Regions from separate parts of the Homo sapiens genome. Here region 2 is linked to region 1. Evidence: fine-mapped expression QTL. Tissue or cell type: whole blood. Region 1 holds a variant in brackets; the other region holds the start of a gene. All regions are shown on one strand. Distances are between the middles of the regions.

Region 1 (8,107 bases):
ATAAGTGACCACAATGTTCATAAACAAATTAGGTTCTCCAAACCTCAACAGTTATCCTTTTACTCAGCAAATTAATAAGAATTCTCAATATTTTGGGAGGGAACTGAGAAGCATGCTTAAGAACAAAATGAGCAGGGTGATTGCACATGAGGAAATTGGCTTTAGAACAGAACAGATCATCATCCTGAGAGAAAAGGAAATACACATTCTGCAAGGGTTGCTCATGACTCTTGCTCCCAGATCCATCAGTCCTGCTGGTTTCTCCACCTCTGAGCCCCCTCTCTCCTTTGGGGAGATCCTCAACTCTCTCTTGTAGACCTAGACCTTGGATAGCAGGAAGTTTTAGAAATTCTGGTTCAATACTCTGGGACTTAGGATTTCTATTCTTGGTGTAATCTCAGGATAACCTCATGTTCTAGGTCAGACCGTTCAAGTCCTGCCAATTGTAGGTCCTAGTCCCAAACTTATGTGTCAGTTTGAGAAACTGAGTCCCTCCCCTGTTCACTGTGTCTAAATCCCCATGCTGGGAACCTCTTGTCAGAGACCTTGTCTTTTTCTTGACAGACACCCCTGCTCTGGCTTCTGGACCCCAGCCCTGGGGTTTGGCTCCTGCTTCCTTCTGCTAGACTTTCATCCTGTCTGCCCACTCTGAAGGCCATTTAATCACCAGCTAAGCCATGAGTACTGATGGTTAGAGTGAGTTCTAACACTCAGTAGAAAACTTGACCATGCTTAGGAAAAATGAAGATTCCTAGGCTCCATCCTTAAACCCTAACCCTAACCCTAGGTTCCATCATTATTTTGATTTAGTGGGCCTAGGGCCTGGGAACCTGCATTTGTAAAGAGTCTCCAGTGACTGATTCAGCCAGTTTACTGACCAGTGTTTCAGAAAATTTCTCCAAAACCTTCTCCTGATTTAAGAAGTGTGGACAAGTCTTTGGCAATAAAGTGTGTTGGAATGCTCCATTTTGGTAATTTATCAGGGTCTTAGGATTCCAGACATGGGAAGATGTGACTCAAGGGCAGGTGGCATTGTGGGAGGGACAGGGTAGTGGGCGATGCTTTGTGTCCAGATCTCTGGGGGCCTGAGAAACTGTCTGAGAGAACGGCCTCTGAGCCGCACTGCCTGAGTTCTCATTCTGACTTGGCCACTTCCTGGCTGGGGAGTCTCTCTGCACACATACCACATCTACAAAGAAAATGCCATATAAGTGCTTGCCATTATTCTTATTTTTCCTATATCAGGAACAGACAAGGAGGGGCGAGGAGCAGAATCAGGCAGGGCATGCTCCCCATCTCTCTTCCTTCGGAACAAACAGACCTCCCTCACCTCAGGGCTTTCCAATTCCTGTTCTTATTCCTGGAGGGCTCGTACTGCAGATAATTCTTGCTCCCTCACCTCATTCACATCTTTTGTCAAATGTCACTTCCTAGAGAGCCTCTCTGTGAACACCCCATCCAAAGGAGCCCTGGCCCCAGCCCTACCTCATATTGCTCCTTGTTACTACTTGACATCACATTGCATATTTTTTTGTTCTTTGCCATTTTCCTCATGTTGAATGTAAACTCCATGAGGACAGGGATTGTTGTATTTTTTTAATTGCCGCATTCCCACCACTATTCCAGGTGATGGGAATGCGGCAGTGAAAATAATAATGATAATAATAATCCTTGTCACTCAACAATAGTTGTCATTCAACACATTTTTTTTCTTTTTCTTTTCTTTTTTTTTTTTTGAGACAGAGTCTCTCTCTGTCGCCCAGGCTGGAGTGCAGTGGTGCGATCTCGGCTCACTGCAACCTCCGCCTCCCGGGTTCAAGTGATTCTCCTGCCTCAAGCCCCCCAAGTAGCGGGACTAAAGGCGTGCACCACCACGCCCAGCTACTGTTTGTATTTTTAGCAGAGACAGGGTTTCACCATGTTGGCCAGTACGGTCTAGAGTCCTTGGCCTCAAGTGACCTGCCTGCCTCAGCCTCCCACAGTGTTGGGACTACAGGTGTGAGCCACCGTGCCCGGCCGTCATTCAACAAACATTAAATGACTGAATGAATGAGTGAGTGAACGGATCCAGCCTTCTCCCGGCCTTCAGTGCTTTCACAGTCATTATTCTGGGGCTCTTCTGTCTAGGGCAGGTTTCTTGACAGCAGCACTGTTGACATTGGGGGCCAGAGAAGTCTTTGGTGTGGGGGTTTTCTTGTGCACTGCAAGGTATTTAGCAGCATACCTGGCCTACTAGATGTCAGTAGTCCCTGCTCCATGCCCCAAGCTATGACAATCAAAAATGTTTTTAGGGTTCGCCAAATGACCCTTGGAGGCAAAATGCCTGGTTGAGAACCACTGGGGGAGTATCAGGCTGACTGAGCTAGTATAGTGGTTTTTATTATTAATATTATCTGTAAATAATTAAAAGTGGATGCTTAGGAATTAAAAAAAAAAGGCTAGGACATCTGAATGAAAGTCACTGAATATCCTGAGTCCTTGATAAAGCCAAGAATTTCAACCAATTATTATTTGATGATTATAATAAGTGATTGTAATTGTTCAGGGAGTCAAAATTACTAAATATGATTGAATTCACCTGGTTATTGCATTTGACTAAAAAGAAACGCAGACAAAAACTTACCATAGTCCTTAATCCAGAGTTCTGCAGGCATACAGAAAGACCCGTAACGCATCACATGTGTGGTTGTAATAACCCATCTCCTGATCAGACTGATCTGAGATTCTAATTTTAAAAAATGTAAATCGGCCAGGAGTGGTGGCTGATGCCTGCAACCCCAGCACTTTGGGATGCCAAGGTAGGTGGATTGCCTGAGCCCAGGAGTTTGAGACCAGCCTGGGTAATATGGTAAAGCCCTATCTTAACTAAAAATACAAAAATTAGCTGGTGTGGTGGTGCACACCTCTAGTCCCAGATACTTGAGAGGCTAAGGCAGGAGGATTGCTTGAGCCTGGGGGGCTGAGGCTGCAGTGGGCTATGATTGAGCCACTGCACTCCACCCTGGGTGACAGAGTGAGACTCGGTCTCAAAAAAATGTAAACCATATCTAACATTTGATAATACCTATTGCCTTTTGACAATATACACCTGAAGTTTCATGACCCAGTAATTAAAACAACTTTTTTTTGGCTATTTTCTATAAGTTGTCTAGGAAATCTTGCAAGTTTCTAATTTCTAAAATCTTCTTATGGTGGAATGAGCCCAATAAGAACTGAAAACTTTTTTTAGTCTTATCGATAACATTATAAATTAATTTGTTTAAAATGTGGAACTTTCATTTTCAGAAGTGAAGAAATCCCCAGACAGAGTTACCTTAAAGTTTTAGGTTCAGATAGGAGGCTTTGGGGAAAATGTCCCAAATTGATAGAAATGTTTCCCTCATTCCTATTTTGGTTAAACAATTTCTTATTGTTACACATATGGCTAACTATAATTTAACATTTTCTTCCTTGAAAAAAAATTAACTCAAATTGCTTATAAATCTAAATGAATGACTTCTTATAACATACCTTTAAAACAAAGCAATAGTCAGTGGGCGCTTTATATTTCATTTTATGCTGAGTCCCATAGTAAATGTTGACATTTTCAAACTGTATAAAACACGCCAGATCTCGAGATGTCTGAAAGACAGGGAAAAAAATAAAACTTCAACTGAGATGACAGTTAACAATTTTCCAGAGTTGTCCTTCATAGCACAACTAAGGATTATATTTTAGTAAAGAAAATATTGACTTTTAGGTAATTTATATAAACATCTGCCATGTATAGGTTTTCTCAAAGGCAAGTCTGAAAGGTTGGAATGGAAACTGATATGGCCAAGTTGGGGGACAATTTAGTAAGATCTATACATAAATCTTTCCCAATATGAAAGATATTGAATGTTCCCAACACAAAGAAATGATAAATGTTTGAGATGATGGATGTGCTAATTACCTTGATCTGATCACCATACATTATATGTATCAAAACATCACTATGTACGTTATGCATATGTACAATTATTATTTGTCAATCAAAAAATAAAATTAATTTTTTAAAAAGAGTGCAGCCATGAAAATCGGTGCCACTGACCCAGAAACGGAGTGAAAGATTATACTGCTGTTCTAATGCCTGTCTGGGGACTCCCAGAGTCAGGATGGACTGTCCTTGAGATGTCATTATTGATGCAGTCGAGACAAGGTGACCGCTTAGCCAGAAATTTCATTTTGACTTTTGCCATTCTAAGTCCGTGATGGATTTTGCGATTGAGCATTAAAAAAAAAAAAAAGTCCCCCTCAGGACGAAAAATGAGAGATAAACTTATGCTCAGTAAATCAGCACACACTTCATGCACTTCCTCCTGAGAAAAAGGATTTCTTTCACAAGTTCTCTTTACTGCAGGCAGTGTTGCCATGGAAACAGAGACCTCTCCTCCACGGATAACAGGCACTGTGAAGACTGCAGCCTGTAATCTACATATTTGGTTACACTTCAATTACAAATGTGTTCCATTAGTTTTTTGTTTCGCTTTCTATATTTCTTTACTAGTTAGTGAATAAAGAATAGATGGCAGAACTATTTACACCTTAGTGCACAATTATTTCTTTACATATGCTTGTATTCTTTTCTTACAAGATATTTTCTTCTGGATGTTCAAAGTTTACATTTTTAAGTTACAAACGAATGCATATTAGTCACATTTAAAATATATATATATATAAATAATAAAATGCACATCTTCCTCCACCACCCCTTTTTCTTATTTTGTTCTTTTCTCCAAAGGTACCATAGTTAATAGTTTGGTAGTATTCTA[T/C]TCTGTTCTATCCCATGACGTTGCCCAGGCTGGTCTTGAATTCCTGAGCTCAAGCGATCCGCCTTCCTTGGCCTTCCAAACTGTTGGGATTAGAGGAGTGAGCCACCGCCCCTCGCCTTCTTTTTCTTAACATTGCATCTAGGAGTCTTTCTACATCAAGACATGAATTAATATATGACATTCATTTTATGGCTGCAGAGAATTCTACGGTACAGGTGTAACGATTTATTTAACTATTCTACTACAGATGATTAGAAGTTATTTCAATATTTAGCTATTACAAAAAATACTGTGCATGTGAGCTTATATTTTTGTGAGATAGATTCGTCAAGCATGGAGTTGCCATTTGAAAGGATTTTTACTCCCTGTTACATGTACATAGATTTTGCTAAATTGTCCCCCAGTTTGGCCGTATGAGTTTCTATTCCAAGCTCCCAGGCGTGAGTGTCTCTTTTTCTTACCCACTTCCACCAAAATTTGGATATTATCTATATTGTTTATTTTATCAATCTCATGCTTAATTTTCATTTCCCTGATCAGTAATGAGACGGAGCAACTTTTAGTTATGCGGTGGTTACCGGTACTTCTTTTTCTGTAAATTTTCCCTTTAAAAGCTTTGCCATTTTTCTGTATGTTTATCTTTTTCTTATTGATTTCTTGAAGTCTTTATATTTTATGGATATTCATACTTGTTTATACATGTTGCAAATGTACTCTCTCACTGTAGTCAGTCTTTCACTTCTTGTTTGTTATCTTTGGCCATAAGGTATTAAAAATAACTTTATCAGGTCAAATCTGGCCATTTTTCTCCGTTATAATTTTGAGTTTTTATTCTTGCTTAGGAAACCTTTCTCCAGCTCAAAATTATAAAAACATTAACCTATATTTTCTTTTTTTTCTCCCTTTCTTCCTTCCTTCCTTCCCTCCCTTCCTCCCTTTCTTCCTTTCTTCCTTTCTTCCTTCCTTCACTCTCTCTCTTTCTTTCCTTCTTTTTTTTTTTTTCAGGATCTCATATTGTCACTTCAGCTGGAGTGCAGTGGCACGAACATGGCTCACTGAAGTCTTGACCTCCCGGGCTCAAATGATCCTCCCGGATCAGCCTCCCAAGTAGCTGGGACTACAGGCATGTGCCACCATCCCCACTAATTTTTTTATTCCTTTTGTACAGACAGGGTCTCCCTATGTTTCTCAGGCTGGTCTTGAACTCTTGGGCTCAAGCTATCCTCCCACCTGGTCCTCCCAGAGTTCTGGAATTAGAGGCATGAGCCACCGCACCCAGCCAGCCTCTGTTTTCTTCTAGGATTTTATACTATTTTTCTCTAAAGATATTTTAATCAATCAAGAATTTAGTTTGGTACATGGAATGAGGTAGGAAATTATATTTCTAAATGGATATACAGTTATTTCAGTTCTATTTGTTGAATACCACATTCTTTCCCCACTGCTGTGATATAAATTCCAACTTTAACTTCTCTGATATTAGACGGTTGTCTGTCGACCTGTTTGTCTCTAGCTGTGCTGTTTTTATCTAATGTTTTGGCACAGCAGGAGATCTACCTTGATGTTCTTCACAATTTTGGGAAGGTCTATTTTGGAACAGTGTCTTTTTTCCATGAAATCAGTCTGTGAATTTCAAGTAAATAAAATCCTACTGATATTTTTATTAAAATTATATTAAATTTATAGAAAACTGGGAAGAATTAATAACTTTTCTTTTAGCAACATGGTACCTTTCTTTTCTTTATCTTCTACTTTTTTTTTTTTTTTTGAGATGGAATCTCACTTTGTCGCCCCAGGCTGGAGTGCAGTGGCATGATCTTGGCTCACTGCAACCTCCGCCTCCTGGGTTCAAGCAATTCTTCTGCCTCAGCCTCCCGAGTAGCTGGGATTACAGGCGCCCGCCACCACGCCTGGCTAATTTTTGCATTTTTAGTAGAGATGGGGTTTCACCATGTTGGACAGGCTGGTCTCAAACTCCTGACCTCGTGATTCGCCCGCCTCGGCCTCCCAAAGTGCTGGGATTACAGGCATGAGCCACCGCACCTGGCCTGCAACATGGTACCTTTCTATTGATTCAGTTCTACTTCATTTCTTTTAATACATTTTATATTTTATGCCATATGAATCTGGAACATTTCTTGCTGAGTTTATTGTTAGGTATTTTGCATTTTCTGTTTCTAGTCTGCATGGATTCTTTTGCATTATGGTTTGCATTATATATATTGTTTGTGTAAAGAAAAACTTTCTTAGTTAATACATTTATTTGGTTCTAACAGTTTTTCAGTTGAGTGTCTCATATTGCTGGATAGACAACACTGTGAAAAATCAGTCTTTGCCTCTTCTTTTCTATTGGTTATACTTATTATTCTTTTCTTTAATATACTAGTTAGTTCCTCAACCCCGTGTTAATGGTAACAGTGAGAGAAGGTATTCTTGTCCAACTCTACTGTAAACACTTTTTTTTTTTTTTTTTTTTGAGACCTAGTCTTGCTCTTTCACCCAGGCTGGAGTGCAGCGGCATGATCTCAGGCCACTGCAACCTCCACCTCCCAAGTTCAAGTGATTCCCGTGCCTCACCCTCCCCAGCTACTGGGATTACAAGTGTGCACCACCACACCCAGCTAATTTTTGTATTTTTAGTAGAGGTAGCGTTTCACCATGTTGGCCAGGCTGGTCTAGAACTCCTGGTCTCAAGTGATTCACCTTGCCTCAGCCTCCCAAAGTGCTGGGATTACAGGCATGAACCACCACACCCAGCCAAATGTAAACACTTTTAATTCTCATCACAGAGTATATTGTTTGTTATATGTTTATTTATATGCACCGTTTATATTCAAATGCCTAAGACATAAACATTTCGAAAACAAATTATTTGTGGGTCAGTTGTGAGGTGCCCAGTGTGGGACTGGAATGAGATGGCAGAGATGGGAAAGCATCAGATCTAAGGGCAGGAAAAGAGTGGAAGAGGCTAAGGAGAACAGTAGCTGTCCTGGACCAAGAGTTAGCCATAATGCCCCTCCTGTCTTCCGATAGAGACAAGAGTCTCCTTACTGGAGGTAGCAGACCTGGATGTTCACCATAATTTCATCGGCTTGGAAGTGTGGGTTAAGCTTTATCAGAGGTAAATTCATGCATTGCAATGCATGAATATACCATTGGTGGTGCCCTGCATTTGGAAGGGAAGGCAAAATGCTTCCGCGTACCCAAGATACAGATTAGACATGTATTAATGGTGAACAAAAGACGGAAAGGTCCTAACCCTCTAAGAAAGGTCTTAGAGAGAGCTGATGGTCAGAATAAGAGTTAAAATTACA
Region 2 (8,107 bases), 100 kb after region 1:
CAGGAAATGTTTTAAAACTGAGTCACGGAATCAAGCTCCAGAATATGTGGAATAATGAGAACGTGTGATGCCTTGGAGTGGTGTCACCTCTCTGCTTGCTCATGCCTGAGGTTTGGGACCAGTGGAGCCAACGGGATCTCAGGGGCTTGTGATATTTCCATGGTACCACTCAGTGAGATTAATATATTCTGCACATTTAGCCAGCCTCTTTGGAGTCCTCATTTTGGGATCACAAATTGGCTAGGAAATGATGATGCAGTGGTGGCAGGTCACATCCTCTAGTCCCCCAAAAGCTGTCCTCAGGGTCTGCCCTTCCAAGCTGCAGGTACAATCTAGTCTCTTTAACTGGGTATAGGTGTAATGGCATTCCTTCATGCGGCTAGTTCTCTCTTTTCAAGAGAAATCTAATGATTACTGTTCCAGATATCTAGCAGTTTTCTCTAAAAGTCATGTTTCTCACGATAATTAAAAGTGTAATATGTATTTTAAAATCCCCATGCAACCAGTGTAGAAATCTTACACTTTAAAATCTGGCATTTATTATGTACATGAATTTATAATAAATGCTTAAGCTTTAAGTGACTTGCCTCTTAGATGACAGCAGTGACATAAAACACACACATTCATTTTCATACTGAGAAGATACCTGTTGTGTTAATAAAAATTGTTCTGTTTTGAGGCAAGCATTCCTAAGATCACCGTAGTCTCCATAATATAAACTCATGGGGTCCTATAAAATTGTAAAGATTGTGGTCCAATAGGCTATGGAACGCAGACAATTTATTATAAGATTTGTGGACTCACTAAAATGTTTTAGGCATAAAAATAATTAAAATAAAATTGAAGAGAATTAGAAGAAAATGAAAATAATAATGCTCTTTGGAAGTAAGATGGCTTAAAGAAAATTCAAAGTGACATATCAAACAGACATTTATGGCAATGAACTTTATAAGTAGCTCATTCTAATAATAATATGGAACTATTTAAAACTTTGATTGATGAGTGAAAAAAGGCAAATCAATAGTGGATAACTGGTGAACATTCTTAGGATATAAAAATACAAAAAATGTAATAAATACTATAAAACCTAGTATTGTGTTTAAGATTTAAAGTAATGCCATAAAGTAATTCATATTACAAAGTTATATTTCTTGAGAAATAGCAATTTAAAGATTTCAAAATATAATATTGACCTGTTCAAGTTTGGGCTGTTTCTTATCTCAGTTTTCAAATAAGATGGAAATTTGCCTTTTTACATATAGGCCAGATATTGACTGCGCTTTTACAGGAACTTCTCAGAAACAAAAGACCTCAAAGATATTGATATTTCAGAATGTAATCTGTTATGGTTATGATTATTTTCTCCATTTTTAAAAAATTTGTGATCAGCAATTCTAATGTTGATATAATGTTGCCAGTATTCCAGTTGGGACCAATTCAAAGAATTATAGCAACTCCTCAATTGCTATTTTAAGAACAGACATAATGTAGCCCAATCATCTCACTTTACTGACGTTATCTGAAGTCCAGGGAGAAGTTATGCAAGTTAATCAATATCATCCTTATCTAGATGGGGGAGATATAAGAGCCAGAACCCAGGTCTCCCAAGTGCTGAGAAAAAACCCAAATATTAGTAATTATTAATAGTTTAAGGATTAATAGTTTAAGGACACACATTATTAATAGTTTAAGGATGAAGTTAAATTTCTTAGACCTTTCACAACACACGTTGAGCAGACAGGAAATACCACTAGAAGACTTTATAAAGTATTTCTCAGCAGATCCTTGCTAATTTCGCCAGCCAGCATCATCGTCCTGGCCCATGTGCCACCCATTATTCCAGTGAGGCCAGAGGGAAAATCGCTGCTCTAGGTTTATGAAAAAGGACAAAGTTTTCCTTTCTGAAATTTCTCTCTGGAGACCCAGATTTTAAAATGAATAGTAGCTAGTACCGGCACCTTTGTTTAAACCACGTTATGCCACCAGAAAAAAACATCTGGGGGCATAATAAACTCACGGGCCCTTTTCTTTTGTTACTTTCCTCTAGTACTCCGTCTCGTCAAGGATCACATTAAAAGTTCTTTTGAACCGCTATGCCCTGAGTGTCTAGGAAACACATTTCACGTTCCACAGGGGTATGAACTAAGAAATACCTTAGCAGGAAAGTAAGAGGTACACCGGGCTAGGTCTTTGGTGGAACACCTGCGCAGAGGTTCTTGGAGACATTAGGACACCCTAGTTAGTTTCCTCCATTCTGTAAAAGGCCCTCTGGATATTCATTTCAAGCCAAATTATGAAACTTGTGCCTGGTGTCCAAATCTATCTTTATGGTATTTTAAAATGAAAATGAGAATATTCGGGGGAAAAAGTTATTTTTAAAAAGAGGAAAGAGTTGTCCAAAAGTTTTAGAGGAAGGAAACACTCTAAGATGCATCAGACTGCGAGCCACACTCAAATTCTCACACGGCTGGCATTTAATCCACATCTAATCTTGGCCCCTCAAGAATCCCTCCAGGTTCCGGGAGACTGGGGCTCCCGGACCTGCTGACCTGCTGACCTGCTGACCTGCTGGACGTGCAAGGGTTCATAGCAGTTCCCCGTTTGACCTTGCAGCAATTTCCTGGGCAGGAAATCTGTCAAATCTGTTGCAATAGCTCGGGAAAAAGCAAACCCGAACCCCAAACCCTCACACCCCCACCCTCGCGAGCCGGGTCCAGAGTGGAGATCAGCGGAGGGGACCCTGGGGACCCGCTGCGCTCGAGGGCCACGCCTGGGGGCACGCGTTCACGAGGCCAGATCCTGGAGCTGCCCCCGGCGTCGGACCCGACGGGCTTGACAAACGGGTTCCTGACAGCCCCGAGGGGCCCGTGCTGGCGCTCCCAGGGCTCCCGGGACTGGGAGCGCCACTTACCTCGACTGCTCTGCGGGGCGCTGCGGGGCGCGGGAAGGCGGCGAGACTCCGGCCGGGAAAGCGACGCGCGGTGCAGACTGCCGCACCCGGGCTCCAGGTCGCTGCCCCGGGGAGGAAGTGCTGTCAGCCCTGCCCTTCCCACGCAGCGCGCAGACGTGTGGCGCTATCCGAGCTGCTTTGCTCCGAGGTGCAAGGAAGGCCCCTGGTTAGAGACAGTGGGACAGACAAACATATGCGTAAAGGACTCCGAGTTAGGGGCTGCTTTCTCCAACTCATCGAGTCTGCGCCTGATTTTCTCTCCCCCATCCCACCCCTACTACACAACCACCTTGAAGGGATTTTTATTTTATTTTATTTTATTTTATTTTAATTCTGGGAAACGTTGCGCCTCCCCCTACCTGTGCCGCGCGCGCCCTTCTCTCAGGAGCGTCTCCTGGCGAATGGAACCATTTTGCAGCCTCGACGCAAGAGGGACTAAGGGATTGGGGCCTAGTGATGGTTCCACCAAAGACTGAGAGGCCGCTTTATGTTGCAACGGTCTCCCAAAGTGTTTACTTCAGCACTTTCTGGGCTTCCTCTTTTGGGCCGGTTGTGCAAGGCTTCCCGGCCGCCTGCAGCCCGCCCTCAGGGGACGCGGTGCAGGGCTGGACTGGCAACACGCGCGTCCCGGCCGGAGTTCAGCTGTCTCTCGGGTGGGGGTGGAGGAAGGGCGCGCTGGGCGGAGGCCCTTTCTCAACCATCAGGTTGGTAACCTCACCCTCCTCCCTCCCCACGTTTAACCACGCTCAGTTGGCCGGCCAGGGTGTAGAGGAATAGCACTGTCTTCATTGCTCGTAGAAATCCAAAATGGTCTGAACCCCGTGGAAGAGAATTGAGCAATATCTATTTAACTTATGTATGGATTCGCCTTTTGACCCCGTCATCCCACTTCCAGGAGTGTGTTACGAAGATCTGCTGATGAAAATAAGTAATGCACACGGCAGAGGGCATTCATGGACTCACTATTTGCAACAGCATAGGACTGGCTGGAAATAGCACCTGTCAGTTGGGAGTGGAGTTTCCTGAGAGAAAGTCGCTGGGGAGGTCTGAAAATACAGAAGTTAAAATCAGTTATGATTTGTAAATGCGGTTGAATAACCCTCCCCTTCTCCTCTACAGCTGTGTCTTCAAAGGCTTATATGTCAGGGAAGGTGGTGAAGACATAAAGACAGAAATTAGGTGCATGTGTTAATTAGGCAATTTCAAATAGTTCTGTCATTTATTTAATGAGAAACTATTCGTAAGCACCAACACTTCTAAGAACAATGAAAATAGTTAGAGGAAACAATTTCTGCTCTCATGCATGGTGCATTCTAGTTGGTAGAAAGCAGACAATAAACAAATTAATATTTAACATGTCAAGGAATGTAACTAGTTTTGAAGGAAGTTAAAAGGTGAGGGATAGAGAGTGATGGGCATGGGGATGGGGTTGCTGTATTAATTAGGGTAAATAAACGATAAATAAATAGAAAATATATTTTCTCCTCATGATTTTCTTAATAACAGTTTCTTTTCTCTAGCTTTCTTTATTGTAAAAATACAGTATTTATCTAAATACATATAACATAATATGTGTTAATTGACTGTTTAATATTATCAGTAAGGCTTCTGGTCAACAGTAGGCTATTCGTGGTTAAGTTTTGGGGGAGTCAAAAGACATACATGGATTTTCAATTGTGCAGCAGTTTGGTACTCCTGAAATCTGGCATTGTTCTGTTACAGTAGGTAGCTAGTCAGGCATGAGCAGGGCAGGAGAGGGCTCCTCCCACCCCCTACCAGGAATGTCAGGTGACCATCAGGTGATGATCAAGCAGTTGTTATCAGCCTTACTGATAACATAGTCGATTAACTCATATTATTTTATATATATTAAATACTGTATTTTTATAATAAAGTAAGCCAGAGAAAAGAAACTGTTATTAATAAAATCATAAGGAAGAGAAAATGTATTTTTCATTTATTTATTTATTATTTATTTATCCTAATTTTTTTTAATATAGCACCAGGGAAAGGCAGTCTCCCAATAGACAGAAACACCTGAAACTGGTATTTCTGTCTGATAAGTGACACTTGAGCTAGATCTAAATGGCATGAGAGATTAATCCACACTGGGTTTTTAGATGGGAATATTCCAGGCAAAAGGAACAGCACATTCAAAGACCCTGAGTTAGGAGAGCACTTAAGATATTGGAAAAACACCAAGGAAATTAGTACGGCTGAGCAGAGTGAGATGGGAGGGACAGACATGAGATGGGATCAAAAGGAAATGGTGCCCAGATTGTGTGCTATTTGGGAGCTGTGGAAGAGAATTTGATGTGAGTGAGATGGAAAGCCAGTGGAAGGTTCTGAGCAGAGTTGTAAGTGCTACATAAAATATAAAATCAAACAATGAGAGTGACTTTCTTGGGGCAGGGAAAGTGGTCAAGGATCACCTCTTTACAAAGTAATGAGAAGGGGCAGCCATTCAGAAACTTGGGAAAGGATTCCAAGAGAAGGAAGAACAAGAAGAGGGGCTGAGATAGGAACATAGAAAGTTCAAAAGAAGGCAGGCCAGTGTGCCTGGAATGTTCTGAAAGAGTAGGGCAGCAATAGTGGATGGGGACAGAGAGGTAAGCAGGAACCAGAACAAGCAGGACCTTGTAGCCAGCATTGAGGACTTTAGGTTTTATTCTAATTGCAATGGGGGACTATTGGAATGTATTTAGCAACTGAGTGCATGATTTGACTTAAGCGATAAGCCATCCTGCCAGTTGGTGATTGTTCAGAAAATCAATTGATTGAAGCAAGAGAAGAGAGATTCCTCAGTAGACTATGGTCAGAGTCCAGATGAAAAATGATAGTAGCTTTATTAGTATTCTAACAGTAGATATGGTGAGAAGAGTTTGGAATCAAGATACAGTTTTCAAAATAAAACCAAAGCTTGGCACAGTTGCTCATGCCTGTAATATCAGTGCTTTAGGAGGCCAAGGTGGTAGGATCACTTGAGGCCATGAGTTCAAAACTAGCCTGGACAACATAGCAAGACCCTATCTCTACAAAAATGGGGGAAAAAATTAGCTGGGTATGGTGGCTTATGCCTATGGTTCCAGTTGCTTGGGAGACTGAGGCAGGAGGATTGCTTGAGCCCAGGAGTTCAAATCTGCAGTGAGCTATGATGATGCCACTGTACTCCAGCCTGGGCAACAGAGCAAGACTATTTAAACAAACAAACAAACAACCACCTAGCAAAGTAGAACCAATAGCATTTGCTGATGGGTGGGCTGGGAAATGGGATGGGAGTAAGGGAGTGGCAGAGGGATTAGAAACTGAATGGAAACCAGTATGATTGGAGTTATGGAAGGTCTGGTTAGAGGTAAGGTCAGTAGGGGCAAACCATGTAGGGTCATGTGGACTATGTCAAGAATTATTTTCTCATCCTAAGAGCAATGAGAATATATTAAATAATATTTTAAGCTGGCAAATGATGGGATTTATGCTTTAGGAAAATCACTCTGGCATAATTTGGGGAACGGATCAGATGAAGAAAAGAATAGATGCAGGAAGACTTCTGAGCTAAGTTGGGAAAGAAAATACAATTGGCCTTTGAACTGCCAGCAGCAGAATATATCTGAGACACGGCACCAAAATATGTTAGCTTTGGCAAAACCATATGGGTCTGTAGCGACCTAAATTCTTGCCTCCTCAGAAGAAAGAATTCAACTGAGGGGCATAAGGCAGAAGAAGAGACTAAGGCAAGCTTTAGAGCAGGAGCGAAAGTTTATTAGAAAACTGTAGGGCAGTAACAAAAGAAAGTAAATTATACTTGGAAGAGGGCCAAGCGGGTGACTTGAGAGAAGTGCGCTGTTTGACTTTTGACTTGGGGCTTTACGCATTGACATACTTCGGGGTCTTGTCTTCCTCCTCCTGATTCTTCCCATGGAGTGGGCTGTCCACATGAGCAGTGGCGTGCCAGCACTTGGGAGGTGAGCATGCGCAGTGTGTTTACTGAAGTTGTACGCGTGTTCACTTTAGGCATTCTTCCCTTACCAAATGTCCCTGGAAGGTCATTTGCCAGTTAAACTCCACCATTTTACCTCTTAGTGCACATGCTTGAGCCCACTCGCCCAACTCCTGAGATCTTATCTGGAAGCTGTTGATCACCAGTTTCAGGTGTTTCTATCTATTGGGAGACTGCCTTTCCCTGGTGCTGGCTGTGATCAATTATTATTTTAGAGACACGGTTAACAGTCCCCTGACCACCACCTGATAGTCGCCTGACATTCCTGGTAGGGGGTGAGGGGAGCCCTCTCCTGCCCTGCTCATGCCTGACTAGCTACCTACTGTAACAGAACAATGCCAGGTTTTAGGGGTACCAAAATGCTGCACAGTTGAAAATCCATGTATAACTTTTGACTCCCACAAAACTTGACTACTAATTGTCTACTGTTGCCCAGAAGACTTACTGATAACACAGTCGATTAACACATATTATGTTATATGTATTAAATACTGTATTTTTACAATAAAGTAAGCTAGAGAAACTGTTATTAACAAAATCATAAAAGAAAATATATTTTCTATGTATTTATTTTTTATTTATTTTCAGAGTCTCACTCTGTTCCTGGACTAGAGTGCAGTGGTGAGATCATAGCTCCTTGTAACCTCAAACTCCAGGGCTCAAGGGATCCTGCTGCTTCAGCCTCCTGAGCAGCTGGGACTATAGGCATGCACCATCATGTCCAGCTAATTTTATTTTAAATAATTTTTTGTAAGATGGGGTCTTGCTATGTTTCCCAGGCTTGTCTAAAATTCCTGGCCTCAAGCGATCTTCCTGCCCCAGCCTCCCAAAGTGCTGGGATTACAGGCATGAACCACTGTGACTGACCTCATATTTACTATTTATTAAGTGGAAGTGGATCATCATAAAGGTCTTCATCCTCATCTTCACGTTACTCAACTTGAGTAGGAGGAGGAAGAGGAGGGGTTGATCTTGCTGTCTCAGGGGCGGCAGAAGCAGCAGGAAAATCCAAGTATAAATGCACCCATGCAGTTCAAACCCATGTTGTTCAAGGGTCAACTGTATAATTGTTTTGACTAGGTCAGCAGCAGCGGAAATGCGAAGAAATGGGTGAAACTGAGAGACATTTAGAAGGTAGTTTGCCAGAGATTCAGAGGACT

What was found. PIP is the estimated chance that this variant, and not a neighbour inherited with it, causes the effect.
Region 2: APBB1IP starts here. The variant in region 1 is fine-mapped to the expression of APBB1IP in whole blood (TOPMed, PIP 0.90).

What each region holds. Positions count from the first base shown.
Region 1 is chr10:26,537,096-26,545,202 of GRCh38, reverse strand. APBB1IP (amyloid beta precursor protein binding family B member 1 interacting protein) reads right to left here. Exons shown (of 15, transcript NM_019043.4): 11 at 3,511-3,621. Among named protein-coding and RNA genes, the nearest start is that of LINC03028, 38 kb to the left of the region's middle. RefSeq lists an enhancer at 4,383-4,452. The variant T/C (reference allele first, on the strand shown) is at 4,794.
Region 2 is chr10:26,433,658-26,441,764 of GRCh38, reverse strand. APBB1IP (amyloid beta precursor protein binding family B member 1 interacting protein) reads right to left here and starts at 3,424. Exons shown (of 15, transcript NM_019043.4): 1 at 3,310-3,424; 2 at 2,912-3,113. RefSeq lists enhancers at 3,091-3,170, 3,731-3,860, 3,578-4,107.